4 linked regions of the Homo sapiens genome follow. The protein of the gene in region 4 purifies or fractionates together with the protein of the main gene of each other region. This does not show direct contact. Each region holds a gene or a part of one and is shown on either strand. Other genes may lie near its edges.

Region 1 (3,506 bases), on a different chromosome or scaffold from region 4:
GGGTACAAAAATTAGTATCTCAGACTGCTTTGGATAGATTCAACATACGATGTTGGGTTTTAATTGATAATGGATGAGTTCAAGGTTTTGGCCCATAGAGAAGCTTCCCACCATTATGTAGGCCTTCTTTGTACTTACTTGTACCATCTTTAGACTAGGTTTATCTGTTTGAAGTGTTATTTTTTCCCCCATTCAGGATATGGTAACCAAAATATGAGATATAATAAGCTGGAAATTTTACAGAGTGGAGGTAGATTCATTGGAGTTTTTTGAAAATTTTAAACTATTTAAAACAATTTTTTTAAACTGTATTTAGGATAAGATAGTTTGAAAGGTTTCATTCATTTTAGAAACTCACCCATTCTGTTTATTTTCAACAAGTTGAGCCACTGAGGATGTTTTTTAGATATGTCTTTTTCCCCTACCCCACATATGTAAGTATATAATACACGTAAATAGAAGATAACAAACTTTTATGTAAAATATTAGAGGTCTTTGAAACACAGTATTTATAATTACTTAGATTTTGGACTTTTCTTCCCTACTTTGTAGAGTCCAATTAACAATGTGTCTCCGTGCCATCATAAAACATGATTTTCCTGGTCACTGGCCAGGAGTGGTCGACAAGATAGACTATTACTTGCAATCACAGAGCAGTGCAAGCTGGCTTGGCAGTTTATTATGCCTGTATCAACTGGTGAAGACATATGAGTAAGTTGGTTTCCATTGGCTGAAGAAAGCAGCCTTGTGTAACTTAGAAATAATGAAGTTGCAAAGAGTGGTCTGTTGTGGATGTTCTGCACAGGTTATCAGATTAGTTTGGGAAATGTTGGGTTAAACATGCTTAAATGTGTTTATTTGCTGCAGTTATTGAAAGAAACTTTAATGTGCTGATGGATATTGCTAACCTCTGAGACAGTGATATAATATGAAGCACTTCTCAAACTTGTTAGTTGCACAGTACCATTTATTAACAGCTTTCCTTGGAAACTCTGATATAGAGATACCTTTATATTTGTCTTCTAGGGAGTATATTAAGTAAACCAAAACATTTACTTTTTTGGATGCAAGATAGAAAATGTTAACGTTTCTTTGCTAATGACATTCTTTTCCATAAAAGTAGCTTGGGTAGGTAGAGGACTAATATCACACTTAATAGTATTGCTTTCTGGTTTCTAGGAAGATTGCTACATGTGTATATGAAGTCCTGTAGTTCTCCTTTTAAACTGACTAGTTCCTACTCTGCTTATGAAATTTATAGAACATATTTTAGATTTATGGCAATTAAAGCAATCTAAGAGCACCTAAATTTTAAACTATTTTAACTACTCAATTCAGGGAGAAATATAATAAGAAAATTCCCCCCATATTATTTGTTATATAGTCTATTTAAAATAGCATAGCAACTTATATTTTATAGTAAGAATTTTGGCTGGATGAAAATTAATTTAAATACTAGAAACATTCATGTAGGAAAACTGCAAAATGGTCTCGGGTTGTTTTAAACTAGTCTAAATCTTTCCAGAAAGATTTTAGGTGTTGTGCCTAAAACAGGATGTGTTATTTTAAATTTCTTTTCAACTTAATTCTAGCAATTCAAACAAACTAGAAGCCAATGTTAATGACTTTGTTTTGTTAGTTTTATGTATTTAAAAAATATTTTATAATTTATTGTTGATGGTTCTTTGGGTGGGAAAAATTACTTTTCTGTTTTTGTCTTTGCTCATGTAGATATAAGAAAGCAGAAGAGAGAGAACCTCTTATAATAGCAATGCAGATATTCCTGCCTCGTATTCAGCAACAAATTGTTCAGCTCCTTCCTGATTCCTCCTATTATTCTGTATTACTGCAGAAACAAATTCTGAAAATCTTTTATGCACTTGTTCAGGTAGGTTTCTATTGCAGAAAACAAACATGGAGTCCTGTATTTCTGCCTGACACATGGAAAGTGCTCAATAAGTGTCACTTATTATTAAAAATTATTTTGTATTATCCCATATATTTCTTTAAAAAATGCTTATGAGGAACAGGTTCACAGAAATTAATTACCCAAGATCGTCTCAATGGCATATCTGCCCCTAAGTGCTTTTCACTCCAGTGTCTGAAATCATGGGTAAAGCAGAACCAGGGTAGGTAAACCTACCTGCTCTAAAACCTGATTACTCGCAACTATCTGTTCTGTAGCATTCCTGCCTATAGATTAGTTATGATTACAAGAGAAGAAGAAGGAAAAGAAGAAGGAAAAGAAGAAGGAAAAGAAGAAGGGAGTCCCTCTTCTATTGGGAAATCATATTGATGGTAGTTTCTTTGCATTTGACTCAAAGCTAACAGAGGATTTAGGGTTCATTTTCCTTGGTTTAAAATACTGCCTAAAAAAAAAAAATCTGAATGCTATAAGGGATACCAACATGGGAATCCGGAAAGAAATGAGAAGATAGAGATGGAATATGTTTGAAATATAAAAATATTTAACATCAAATCCTTGAAAGATTTGGGTAAATTATTTAGGTCTGATTGGAGGAAGAATAATTGTTTTCAGTCTTAACTGTTTGATGAATGAATTAAACTCTATTACATGCTTTCTAGTTGAATTTGTCGTGAGAAGAGGATGGTTTTGTTGAGCTCAAAAACCATGATAGTTTGGATCCATCCTTGGCTTTTTATTGACTTAGATACTTAAACTATTTCAAAATATTTTACTTTAATAAAGATTTATATTTTTATTAAAGCTTCCCCTTTTAAACTTTTAATAGGGATAGTCTGAGGCAGATATTTTTTTTTTTCCCCCAGAGCAGCCTTTTTGCAGGGAAAGAGAAGAGGGAAGGAGGCAAATGTGAGAAGAGAAGAAACTAGAATACTAGGAAAATATGTTCTCTCACTTGTTTTGAAATAATATTCAGAGGCCAGACTTCCTTTTTCTATTGGCAGAAACAGCTAGAAATTGGGAAGTAAGACAAAGGCTAATGAAATAATTTTTCTAAAGCCTCTACCTCTAATTGGTTTGCTAAGACGACAGAATCTTCATATTTTTCTCAGTCTATACTTGCTAAAAACCTGGAAAACCTCAACATTTTTAACCATTTTGGTAATCTGTTATGTACTAATACATTAATATTCTCCTCTGGGAAGTAGAAATTTAGAAGGCATTAGGAGCCACTATTACAATGCTGACATAAGTAAAAAGCGATAATATGAGAAGGAGCAGACAATTTTGTTTTTAAAAGTATGAGCAGCCGGGTGCAGTGGGTCAGGTCTGTAATCCCAGCACGTTGGGAGGCCAAGGTGGGTGGGTCACCTGAGGTCTGGAGTTCAAGACCAGCCTGGCCAACATGGTGAAACCCCATCTCTAGAAAAATACAAAAATTAGCCAGAAATGATGGCGGGTGCCTCTAATTCCAGCTATTCCAGAGGCTGAGGTGAGAGAATTGCTCAAACCCAGGAGGCGGAGGTTGCAGTGATCTGAGATTGCACCATTGCACTGCAGCCTGGGTGACAGAGCGAGACTC
Region 2 (3,506 bases), on a different chromosome or scaffold from region 4:
ATAGGTAGCAAATGGGTTAGGTGTGGTGACTTACACCTGTAATCCCAGCACTTTGGGAGGCTGAGATGGGAGAATCGCTTGAGGCCAGGAGTTAGAGACCAGCCGGGGCAACGTAGTGAGACACTGTCTCTAACAACAACAACAAAAAAAACCCCAGAAAAACGAAGATAGTATATAGTTTTCTCTTCTTTTCATTCTTAATCAGAAATGAGTTAAATTATTTTTCAAAGTATACGGTTGTTTTTCTTGATGATGAGCTTGTCATTAAAATATGTGTTAACTGTTTTTACTGGCTTGTAAGTGGTTGAAATTTCTATTTGAACATTGATTTGTGATCGAAAATTTTTTTCCAAGGTTTTATTGAAGGTGTTATATCAGTACAAGGAGAAGCAATATATGGCTCCTCGAGTTTTACAACAGACATTAAATTATATTAATCAAGGAGTTTCTCATGCTCTCACCTGGAAGAATCTGAAGCCCCATATACAAGTAATAATTTTTATCTGAAATGTTTTTATAGTAAATATAATAGAAATGACATCAATTGCCATAAAGGTTGAAAAATTGCATGTTTGTTGAGTTGTGTTACTTAGACTACTTCTGGTGATTGTTTTGAGAGTATAGCAGAAAAAGGAGATAAGACAGTGACATAAAGTTATGAGAGGTATCTTGTGAATATTCAACTTATCTTTTAATCCAAAACTGTTGTCTTCAAACTTGCAATTTAAGTTCTTAATATTGGACTATGATTATATTTTATCATGTAATTTGGAGTAGCCAAGGGACTTTATCTCACCAGATTCATTTCTAGTATAAATGACTTACCTGCTATTTCTATGAATAATTTATGTGCTTTATTTAGAGCTGTAGAATTTTATAGACTATATATATTTAGAATACTTAATTGCGACCTTTGTACACATATATCTTAAAGTTACTTGTTACAGAAAGGGGAAGTACATGTAGTTTGATAGTTGATCTTAGAACACATTAAATGCATTACTAACGTTTGATATTAAGCTTTAAAATACATATAGTGTTACTTTGGTTTTAATACTTAAAGGAAATTTGAAGGTTTAAATTTGAAAACTGATGGTTATTGTTTTCTTAACTTTTAAATTGCAGGGCATTATCCAAGATGTTATTTTTCCATTGATGTGCTATACAGATGCTGATGAGGAACTTTGGCAAGAAGACCCTTACGAATATATACGCATGAAGTTTGGTAAGGAATTTTCACGTTTTTAGAAACAAAAAATGTCAGTAATTAAGATTACAGTGATTGCATGTAGCCAACCTAGGGGGTATTATGTATCTTCTTTGTTGTTTTAATGTAATTGATCCCTTGTGTAGTCCTTTTTGGGGCTATTTATTAATTATGACATTTGATAATGATAATCTTATTTTTGGCAGACACAAATTCAATACTGTTAAGTTTTTATTACTGAATACCAAAACTGTTAGATATTCAAGATTACACCTCAACACTAAATGTCTTAACTATACTTTTGGATCTTATGTTAGCCATCATATGAGTGGGAAATGAGAAAACACATCTAGGAAGCTGGTGTCACATGAAGTCCTTGCACAGAACTAAAGAATTGTAATTTGGCTAATAATGTTGAATATTGGTCCTTATTCTTACCAAGTCATTTGTGCTTTTTGCAGCTTGTACTTTTGTGACCCTGTTGTGAAAATTCTCACATCAGTAGTGTTTCATACATACGATTTAAACTGCTGAGTTCTGAGTTAATAAATAAAAATGAAAGCTATTAGGAGGAATTCATGGATTAACATTTAATTTTCACAGGCCAGGTGCGGTGGCTAAGGCCTGTAAATCCCAACGTGTTGGGAGGCCGAGGCAGGCAGATCGTTTGAGGTCAGGAGTTTGAGACCAGCCTGACCAATATAGTGAAACCCCATCTCTACTAAAAATACAAAAATTAGCCGGGCGTGGTGGCAGGCACCTGTAAACCAGCTACTTGGGAGGCTGAGGCAGGAGAATTGCTTGAACCTGGGAGATGGAGGTTACAATGAGCCGAGATCGCCCACTGCACTCCAGCCTGAGTGACAGAGCGAGACTCCATCTCAAAACAAACAAAAGCATTCAATTTGTACAGAAAAGACATTGAATTCTGCTTTTGCAAAATTATAAAGGGATCTGGGATCATTTTCATACCTTATGTAAAGATTAAGCATGTTTTTTAATGCTTTGTTGAAGAAATTAATGTTTATTGTCTTAATTTTAAACTTGTTCTCTAGATGTGTTTGAAGATTTCATTTCTCCTACCACTGCTGCCCAGACACTTTTGTTTACAGCCTGTAGTAAGAGGAAAGAGGTAGGCTTATTTAATGTTTAGATAACTTTTCTGTATTATTTAAAATTTATTCAACTATACACTTTTTAAATGTTAGTCATGTGAGTCATTTTGTTAGTATGTTTTTTAAGGACTGTTGGCCTATTCAGTAACAATACTTTTCTCTTTTAATCTAGGTACTGCAAAAGACTATGGGATTTTGTTACCAGATTCTTACAGAACCAAATGCTGACCCTCGAAAAAAAGATGGAGCCCTGCATATGATTGGCTCTTTAGCTGAAATACTTCTGAAGGTATTCTTTAGTGTGTTTGTATGTGCATGACTATGCAAGTAGTTTTAAAAAATAAATAGCCAGCCAGGCACAGTGGCTCACTTCTATAATCCCAGCACTTTCGGGATGCTGAGGCAGGCAGATTGCCTGAGCCCAGGAGTTTGAGAACAGCCTGGGCAACATAGTGATACCCCCATCTCTATAAGGATAAAAAATAGGCCGGGTGTGGTGGCTTATGCCTGTAATCCCAGCTATTTGGGAGGCCAGGGCGGGGGGATCACCTGAGGTCAGCAGTTGAAGACCAGCCTGGCCAACATGGTGAAACCCCGTCTCTACTAAAAATACAAAAATCCGCCGGGCGTGATGGCTCACGCCTGTAATCCCAGCATTTTGGGAGACCGAGGTGGGTGGATCATGAGGTCAGGAGATCGAGACCATCCTGGCTAACACAGTGAAACCCCGTCTCTACTAAAAATAAAAATAAAAAATTAGCCGGGCATGGTGGCTGGCGCCTGTAGTCCCAGCTACTCAGGAGGCTGAGGCAGGAGAATGGCTTGAACCCGGGACGTGGAGTTTGCAGTGAGCCGAGATCACGCCACTGCAATCCAGCCTGGGCGACAGAGTGAGACTCTGTCTCCAAAAAAAAAAAAAAAAATCAGCTGGGCATGGTGGTGGGCACCTGTAATCCCAGCTACTTAGGAGGCTGAGGCAGGAGAATCACTTGAACTTGGGAGGCGGAGGCTGCAGTGAGCCGAGGTCATGCCACTGCACTCCATGCTCCAGTCCAGGCGACAGAGACTCCGTCTCAAAAAAAAATAAAAAAATAAAAAATAACAACCTTATGGAGTGTACAACTCAGTGGTTTTTAGTTTATTCACAGTTGTATAACTATCACCCCCAGAAGGAACTCTGTATA
Region 3 (3,506 bases), on a different chromosome or scaffold from region 4:
CACAGCTAGTGATTTTACTAAAATATTTGTTTTTACTTTTTATTCATCAGGAAATTGAACTGAGCATCATTCTAGAAAAGCATTTTAAATGTTGGAACAAAGGTTTACCTCATATACACTATTAATTTAAGGGTTATTTAGGCATTTAAAATCTTTGTGACAAAGTAATGATTTCTCATTAATTAAAGAAAAAGTGGATAGGAGATGGTGTGGCATGCCTCTGGGTTTACATTTGAAGTTACAAAAGTAGTGCTTTAAGCAGTAATAAGACTAAAAATGAATTGTATTCACTTACAGTTTTTACTCTTTCTAAACTTGTATTTTAAGATTTGTTGAGTTCTTTTAGTGTTTATTATTATTGTTATTATTTGTATTTTAGTAGAGACAGAGTTTCATCATGTTGCCCTGGCTGGTCTCGAACTCCTGAGTTCAGGCAATCTGCCCGCCTCTGCCTCCCAAAGTGCTAGGCATCAGCCACTGCGCCCAGCCAAAATTTTTTAAATAGAATTTGTTACTGATTTTATAACTTTCTGAATGGAAGTATAATCTAGCTTATTTGTATAATTTTAAGAGTTGATTAATGAACGTAGAAATGAGAAACTGACCTTCTAAAATGCTATAGGGTTAAAAGATCATATGGCTTATTTGGCTTTTTTAGGCAGTAGAAGAACTGTTTAACCTGATGCAGCTGTTTATAGCTCAGAGGCCAGATATGAGAGAAGAAGAATTAGAAGATATTAAACAGTTCAAGAAAACAACCATAAGTTGTTACTTACGTTGCTTAGATGGCCGCTCCTGCTGGACTACTTTAATAAGGTAAAAAGATGTTTTTAGTTTTGTCTTGTTTATTTCCAGTGAGATGAGGACCATCCTTTTGATGTTTAAAGATAAATCATTTACATTGGGGAAGCATTTGTGCATGTAGCCACTTTGGAACATTTTGAAGGTTCATGAACTACTTTTAAACAGTTTTTGGTCTGGCTTTGGTTTGTATTTGTGTATGTTTTATCATTTTAGGGTTGAAGGGAACCTTTATGTATAGCCTTCTACCCAAAGCTTGAATAGTCTTGTTTATGGCAATTTATCCTAACTCAGGCTTGATAGTTCAGTTCTAGAGGCCTCCAGGAAGTTTTCTGCACCTTTGGATGAGTCTGTTAATATTTTGCATTCTGTTTAGCCCAAATATATCTATCTGGCTTTCTGATCTATATGACTTGGCCAAAATTATAAAACATAGTCTTTATAATTAATTTTCAGAGCTACAGAAGTTATTGAATGGTTACAGGAACTACTACAAATTACCCTTAATTCCCCTTAACCTAGAGAAATAAAGTTCAGGCTAATTTCTTAAATTCTTCTATGTATTACATCTAAGACTTGGAAGTGTTGTTTTTTATTAGGCACATTTTTTTTAATGGTACTTTACTGAAGACTTCACTGTAATATCTTAAGCTACTCAATCTAAGATGAGGTTATTTCAGATTGTCTTCTTTGGAAAGCTTTCAAATGTGAGTCTTCATTAGTAAACAGGGAAATTAACTACGCCTTTGCCGGATTTCTTAAAGGGATTGTTTTTAAATTTTGGATTAATTTTGAATACAATTGTTTTCCCAAAGTTTACTACTTAAAGCTTTATTTCAAAAAAGATTTAGAGCAGCCTGGGCAACATAGTAAAACCCCATCTCTATATAAATAAATAAGTTAGCAAATAAATTAGGGTGTGACGGCATGCACCTGTAGTCCCAGCTCCTCGGGGGGCTGAGGTGGGAAGATCCTTGAGCCCAAAAGGTGGAAGCTGCAGTGAGCCATGATTGTGCCATTGTACTCCAGCCTGGGTGACAGAGCGAGTCTCAAAAAAAGAAAAAAAAGATTTGGAGCTTTCTTAACTCTTCTTGAAAAAGGAAAGGAATAAAGTAGAAGGATTTCCAGTTGTAGTCTATAACAACATTTTTCTGGTATCTAATGAAAGAAGACCTGTTAACAGTAATATAGCTGTGTGAGTAATTATAGTCATGTGTTGCATAACAACAGGGTTACATTCTGAGAAATAAATTTTTAGCCTATTTCATCATTGTGCAAACATCAGAGTGACTACTCACACACAACTAGATAGTAGCGCCTGCTACACCCCTAGGATATATGGTATAGCCAACTGTTCCTAGGCTCTAAATCTGTATAGCATGTTACTACACTGAATACTGTAGGCAATTATAACAGAAAGGTAAGTATTTGTGTATCTAAACGTATTTAAACATAGAAAAGGTACAGTAAAAATATGGAATAAAAGACAGAAAATGGTACACTTGTGTAGGGCACTTACCATGAATGGTGCTTGCAAGACTGGAAATTGCCCTAGGTAAGCCAGTGAATGAGTGGTGAGGGAATGTGAAGGCCTGGGACATTATTGTACCCTACTATAGACTTTATAAACACTGTACACTTAAGCTACACTAAATTTATTTTAAAATACTTTTTCTTCATTATTAATGTACTGAACTTTTTTTACTTTATAAGTTTTTTTAACTTCTTGATTCTTCTATCGTAGCACTTAAAACACACTATCATAACACTTAAAACACACATTTTATAGCTGAACAAAAGTATTTATATCTTTATAAGCTTTTCATATTTAAATTTTTTTTCTTTTTAAATGTTTTCGTTAAAAACTAAGACATAAACACACACAATTAGGCTAGGCCTAGCAGGGTTGGGATCATCAGTATCTCTGTCTCCCACCTCCACATCTTGTCCCACTTGGGAGGTCTTCAGAGGCAGTAACTAGCTTAGAGCTGTCATCTCCTCTGACAATGATGCCTTCTTCTGGAATCCCTCCTGTAGGGCCTGTCTAAGGCTGTTTTACATTTAACTTTTTTTGAAATAAGTAGTAAAATAATGATAATATAGTAAATACATAAACCAGTAACATAGTCATTTATTAACATTATCAAGTATTAGGTACTGTACATAATTGTGGTATACTTACAAGACTGGCAGTACAACAAGTTTGTTTATACCAGCGTCATCAGAGACATGTGGGTAATGCATTGTGAATGTTACCATGGCTATGAAGTCACTAGGCTAATAGGAATTTATCAGCTCCATTATAATCTTATGGGACCACCATTGTGTTTGTGATCCATCATTTACCACAATTTCATTTTGTGGCACATGACTGTATTTTATAAACTATTTTCAAGGCTGACACGTTTTTAGTATTTTTTTCCTTCATGTTACTCTTTTTTAATTACCAGCTGATGAGTGTTTAGATAATATGGTGAATTTTATGATTATCCAGAATTTAACAATCAGAAGATGAGCCTATTATAAAAATCAACATTGTTTATGTGGAAACTTTAAAAATATTCCCATATCTTCTGCCATTGTAGATAATTAGCAGTTGATTAGATATTAATAGACTTTTTTTTAGTTAGAGTTTATTTAATATTATTTCCTTATGCTGCATTTCCAGGAAACAGATGAAGCAGTCTCTTTTCTGTAGGTAGGAA
Region 4 (3,506 bases):
ACGAGCCTCTGGGTATTTAATTCTTCCAGAAAATGTTAGGGTATTTTTTCCAGCAGGCAATTTAACTGGCTAAGTCTTGGTGACCAGTTCCAATCCATCTCCTGTGGGCTGTGGTTCTAATGTCAGTCCAGTTTTCTAAGTATTCTCAGTGCTATTTGGATCTTTGCCCAGTGTCAGACCCAAACAATTATCGGGTCAGACCTATATATGTATAGACCAGGGGAGAGCCCCAGATTGCATAAACAACTGTTATGAAATCACTTTCTTGACCTTCCTTATCTTTGTCACCACCTTGACACCTTCCACCTCTCAGGAGCCACTTCCTCTTCCTGATCTTCAGGTTAGAAATCCAAGGGTTTAGGTTCTCCTCTCTGCTACACACCTCATGGATACATCACCTCCAGGTCCAAGTAGCAGGAAGATAGATAGGGAAGAAAAGCAATGGGGAGTCTCCTAACCCTTTTTGGCTCACAAATCCTCTGCCCAGAGTGAAGGGTTCCTAACTCTGAGGTTTAGATGCCTGCTCAGCCATCTCTGTCCTCACCACAGGAATGCCCAGGAGCGCCACAATGATCTTGTTTCAAATTCTAGTTTCCTTCCCAAATCTGCCTGTTGTTATCAATCATTACTTTTGAGGGTCCCCAGACAGCTGCTCCATGCCTTAGTTACATTTAGCATGAGAGATAAAGTGGAACATGCTCATTCCATTTAAAGGAGAACTGGTACCACCTAGTTACTTTATTGCCAATGATTACATCCCTGGAGGATAAACTCTCAAACAGGAACTTCCTAAGAATATAAATGGAGAATTCTGATTGAAAGATTAATATTCATCACTTCTTTATCCAATCACTTTTTGCATTTTTATTAAAAATTGACACACATAGAAAAATGTTTTAAATGACCAATGAACATCCACCACATATAGATCCACCACAAAAAACAATTGACTGATTTTGTACATATTTATTTGAAAATATGCTGTCAACATCATGACTTTTCAAAACTTAAAAAAAAAACTTCTGCATGCATCTCCTAAGAATTAGAACATTATCCTACGTAACTCAATTATCACTTCTAGAAAAATCAAATATACCACATTATCTACTACCCATTCCATCTTCCTATTTCCCCAAATATCCCCCCAAATGTCTCTTATAGGTTTTTTTATGAATCAGAAGCTAATAAAGGATCACACTTTCCATTTGGTTATGTCTCTTGTCTTAATCTAGCAGAGACCACTTTTTGTTTTACTACATTTGCTTTTTGAAAAGTCCAGACCAGGGCCAAAATGCACAAACTATGGCTTACAACATCACACCCCTGCGTAGGGCCAGTGGAATGTGTGCAAGATCAGTTTGGCTTCATTAACTATGAAGTAGGGGATAGCAAGAAGCTCTTTTTCCATATGAAAGAAGTTGAGGATGGCCTTGAGCTCCAGGCAGGAGATGAGGTGGAGTTCTCCGTGATTCTTCATCAGCGCACTGGCAAGTGCAGTGCCTGGAATGTTTGGCGAGTCTGTGAGGGCCCCAAGGCTGTTGCAGCTCCTCGACCTGATCGGTTGGTCAGTCGCTTGAAGAACATCACCCTGGATGATGCCAGTGATCCTCGCCTAATGGCTCTTCGTCAGCCAAGGGGACCAGATAACTCAATGGGGTTTGGTGCAGAAAGAAAGATCCGTCAAGCTGGTGTCATTGACTAACCACATCCACAAAGCACGTCATTAATCCACTATGATCAAGTTGGGAGGAATCTGGTGAAGGTTTCTGAATATCTCCCTCTTCATCCCTCCCGAAATCTGGAATACTTAGTTCTTTTGAGCTATTACACCAGTTTTAACAGCTTCCTCGTGTTATGTTTAAAAAAATAAATTTAAGAAAACCATTTTAAAATAAATATATAAAAAAAAGTCCAGTTGTCCTATACCAACTCTGGACTTGTCTATTTATTTCCATACTGTGTAATTCAACTTGTTCCTCTATTCCTGTATTTCTTTAAACAGGAAGATAAGTCTAGACAAAAGATTTAATTAAATTTGAGGTAAACATTTTCGGCAGTACATCAAGGATGATCACACATGCTTCATACCGCATCCCATCAAGAGCCACATAATGCTGGCTTATTCCAGAAGTAGTGAAATGCAGTTTGATAGCCAAATCTCACTGTAAAGGCAATTCTTTTGCAATAGATATCTGTGATGTTCTGACACCTTGTAAACAAAGTTCCTTAAAATTTTTTCCACTTAATGGGTTTTACCATCGATTTTTGCCAGATTTAATTACATTAAGGGTTGTAAAATGGTAATTTTTCCAAATCTATCATTCCATGTACATTTAAAAGAAGACATTCTTCAAATAATTGTATAGAGTTTTCTTTTTTCTCTACTTTCATCATTATGAACTTCTTTTCCTTCTTAGTATTATCACCAGTAAGAGTGATTATTCTAAGTTGTCCTAAATTTGGCCAGTGAGAATACCTTCAACTTGGCGCCTGTTCCCTTCTGACATTACCCCATTAGTCTTCAAATACTATCTTGCTTTTTATTTTATTTTCTTAATAAAAAGTATTTTAGCCACACCACCCACTTCCCCTGCTCCAAACATGGAATCAGCCATTTCTCCAAGGAACCCTGGTTCCTTTTAGTGGGGAATGGCATTTAGAAACCAAAATTTGGGTACTAAGCATGCTCACCACTACTGGGTACAATGTTAAATAGTGAGGTCTGTTTAAAAGCCTCATTTTCTTTGTAAATGTATTTAAATACATAAAATAATTACTTTCTGATAAGCTAAAACCAGTCGGTTAAGAAATATACTATACTGACTGCTTGAGTTTAATTCTAACATTTTTCTCAGAAGGTCTAGCTAATTGTATTAGAATTTTTTTTAATGATACCAACTGTGAATTGAATGAAAAATCAAATATAAAATTGGAGGAAAAACGCCTGGGAGGAATTAAACATTTAAACTGATGAAAGGAATGCTTAATAATAAACTCTTCATATATAACTTTCCATAAAATAATTAATTCCTAAAATATGTGTAATAAGAAGGCAACCTTATATGTGAAGCCTCCAAAAGCAATTACACTATCTGGACCTCAGCTAGCTTTAAGGATTTAAGTACAATTATAACAAAAGCAGGCATAATTAGGGACTCATAAGAAAAAAGAATATAGTTGTGAGTCAATTATTAAGATTAAGGTGAGAGGAAGCCCTTAAAGATAACACAGTAACTTTAAATTACTGCAACTATGTCTAACCAGGCTACAAAACAAATAGTACTCTTGGGACCTCAGGTTGGAAACGAGCCTATAATGATCACAAAACACCAGAACCAAAGACCTAGATTCTAGTCTTGACTCTGTTCACTAAGTTCAAATCCTTCGTTAGTACAATGAAAGGCTATAATTAAACTAAAATCTCTCCTGGCTCTAATGAGCTACCAGACATGCAGCCTGAGATTCTGCCAAATACATCCCTTCTGCAACAGATAACAAAGTATGTG

The links.
Region 1: the proteins of ZNF354C (region 4) and IPO8 purify together in Homo sapiens (co-immunoprecipitation; 2 studies listed by BioGRID and IntAct, with this or other methods). This does not show direct contact.
Region 2: the proteins of ZNF354C (region 4) and IPO7 purify together in Homo sapiens (co-immunoprecipitation; one large-scale study listed by IntAct). This does not show direct contact.
Region 3: the proteins of ZNF354C (region 4) and USP34 purify together in Homo sapiens (affinity purification with mass spectrometry; one large-scale study listed by BioGRID and IntAct). This does not show direct contact.

What each region holds. Positions count from the first base shown.
Region 1 is NC_000012.12:30,678,864-30,682,369, reverse strand, and holds part of IPO8 (importin-8), read left to right. Parts: intron 1-552; coding exon 553-711; intron 712-1,731; coding exon 1,732-1,888; intron 1,889-3,506. UniProt on the Homo sapiens protein: Involved in nuclear protein import, either by acting as autonomous nuclear transport receptor or as an adapter-like protein in association with the importin-beta subunit KPNB1.
Region 2 is NC_000011.10:9,422,652-9,426,157, forward strand, and holds part of IPO7 (importin-7), read left to right. Parts: intron 1-354; coding exon 355-489; intron 490-1,125; coding exon 1,126-1,225; intron 1,226-2,262; coding exon 2,263-2,339; intron 2,340-2,494; coding exon 2,495-2,611; intron 2,612-3,506. UniProt on the Homo sapiens protein: Functions in nuclear protein import, either by acting as autonomous nuclear transport receptor or as an adapter-like protein in association with the importin-beta subunit KPNB1.
Region 3 is NC_000002.12:61,209,082-61,212,587, reverse strand, and holds part of USP34 (ubiquitin carboxyl-terminal hydrolase 34), read left to right. Parts: intron 1-658; coding exon 659-816; intron 817-3,506. UniProt on the Homo sapiens protein: Ubiquitin hydrolase that can remove conjugated ubiquitin from AXIN1 and AXIN2, thereby acting as a regulator of Wnt signaling pathway.
Region 4 is NC_000005.10:179,080,869-179,084,374, reverse strand, and holds the end of ZNF354C (zinc finger protein 354C), read right to left. Parts: 3' UTR 398-3,506; downstream 1-397. UniProt on the Homo sapiens protein: Transcriptional repressor that inhibits endothelial angiogenic sprouting. Suppresses osteogenic effects of RUNX2 and may be involved in osteoblastic differentiation.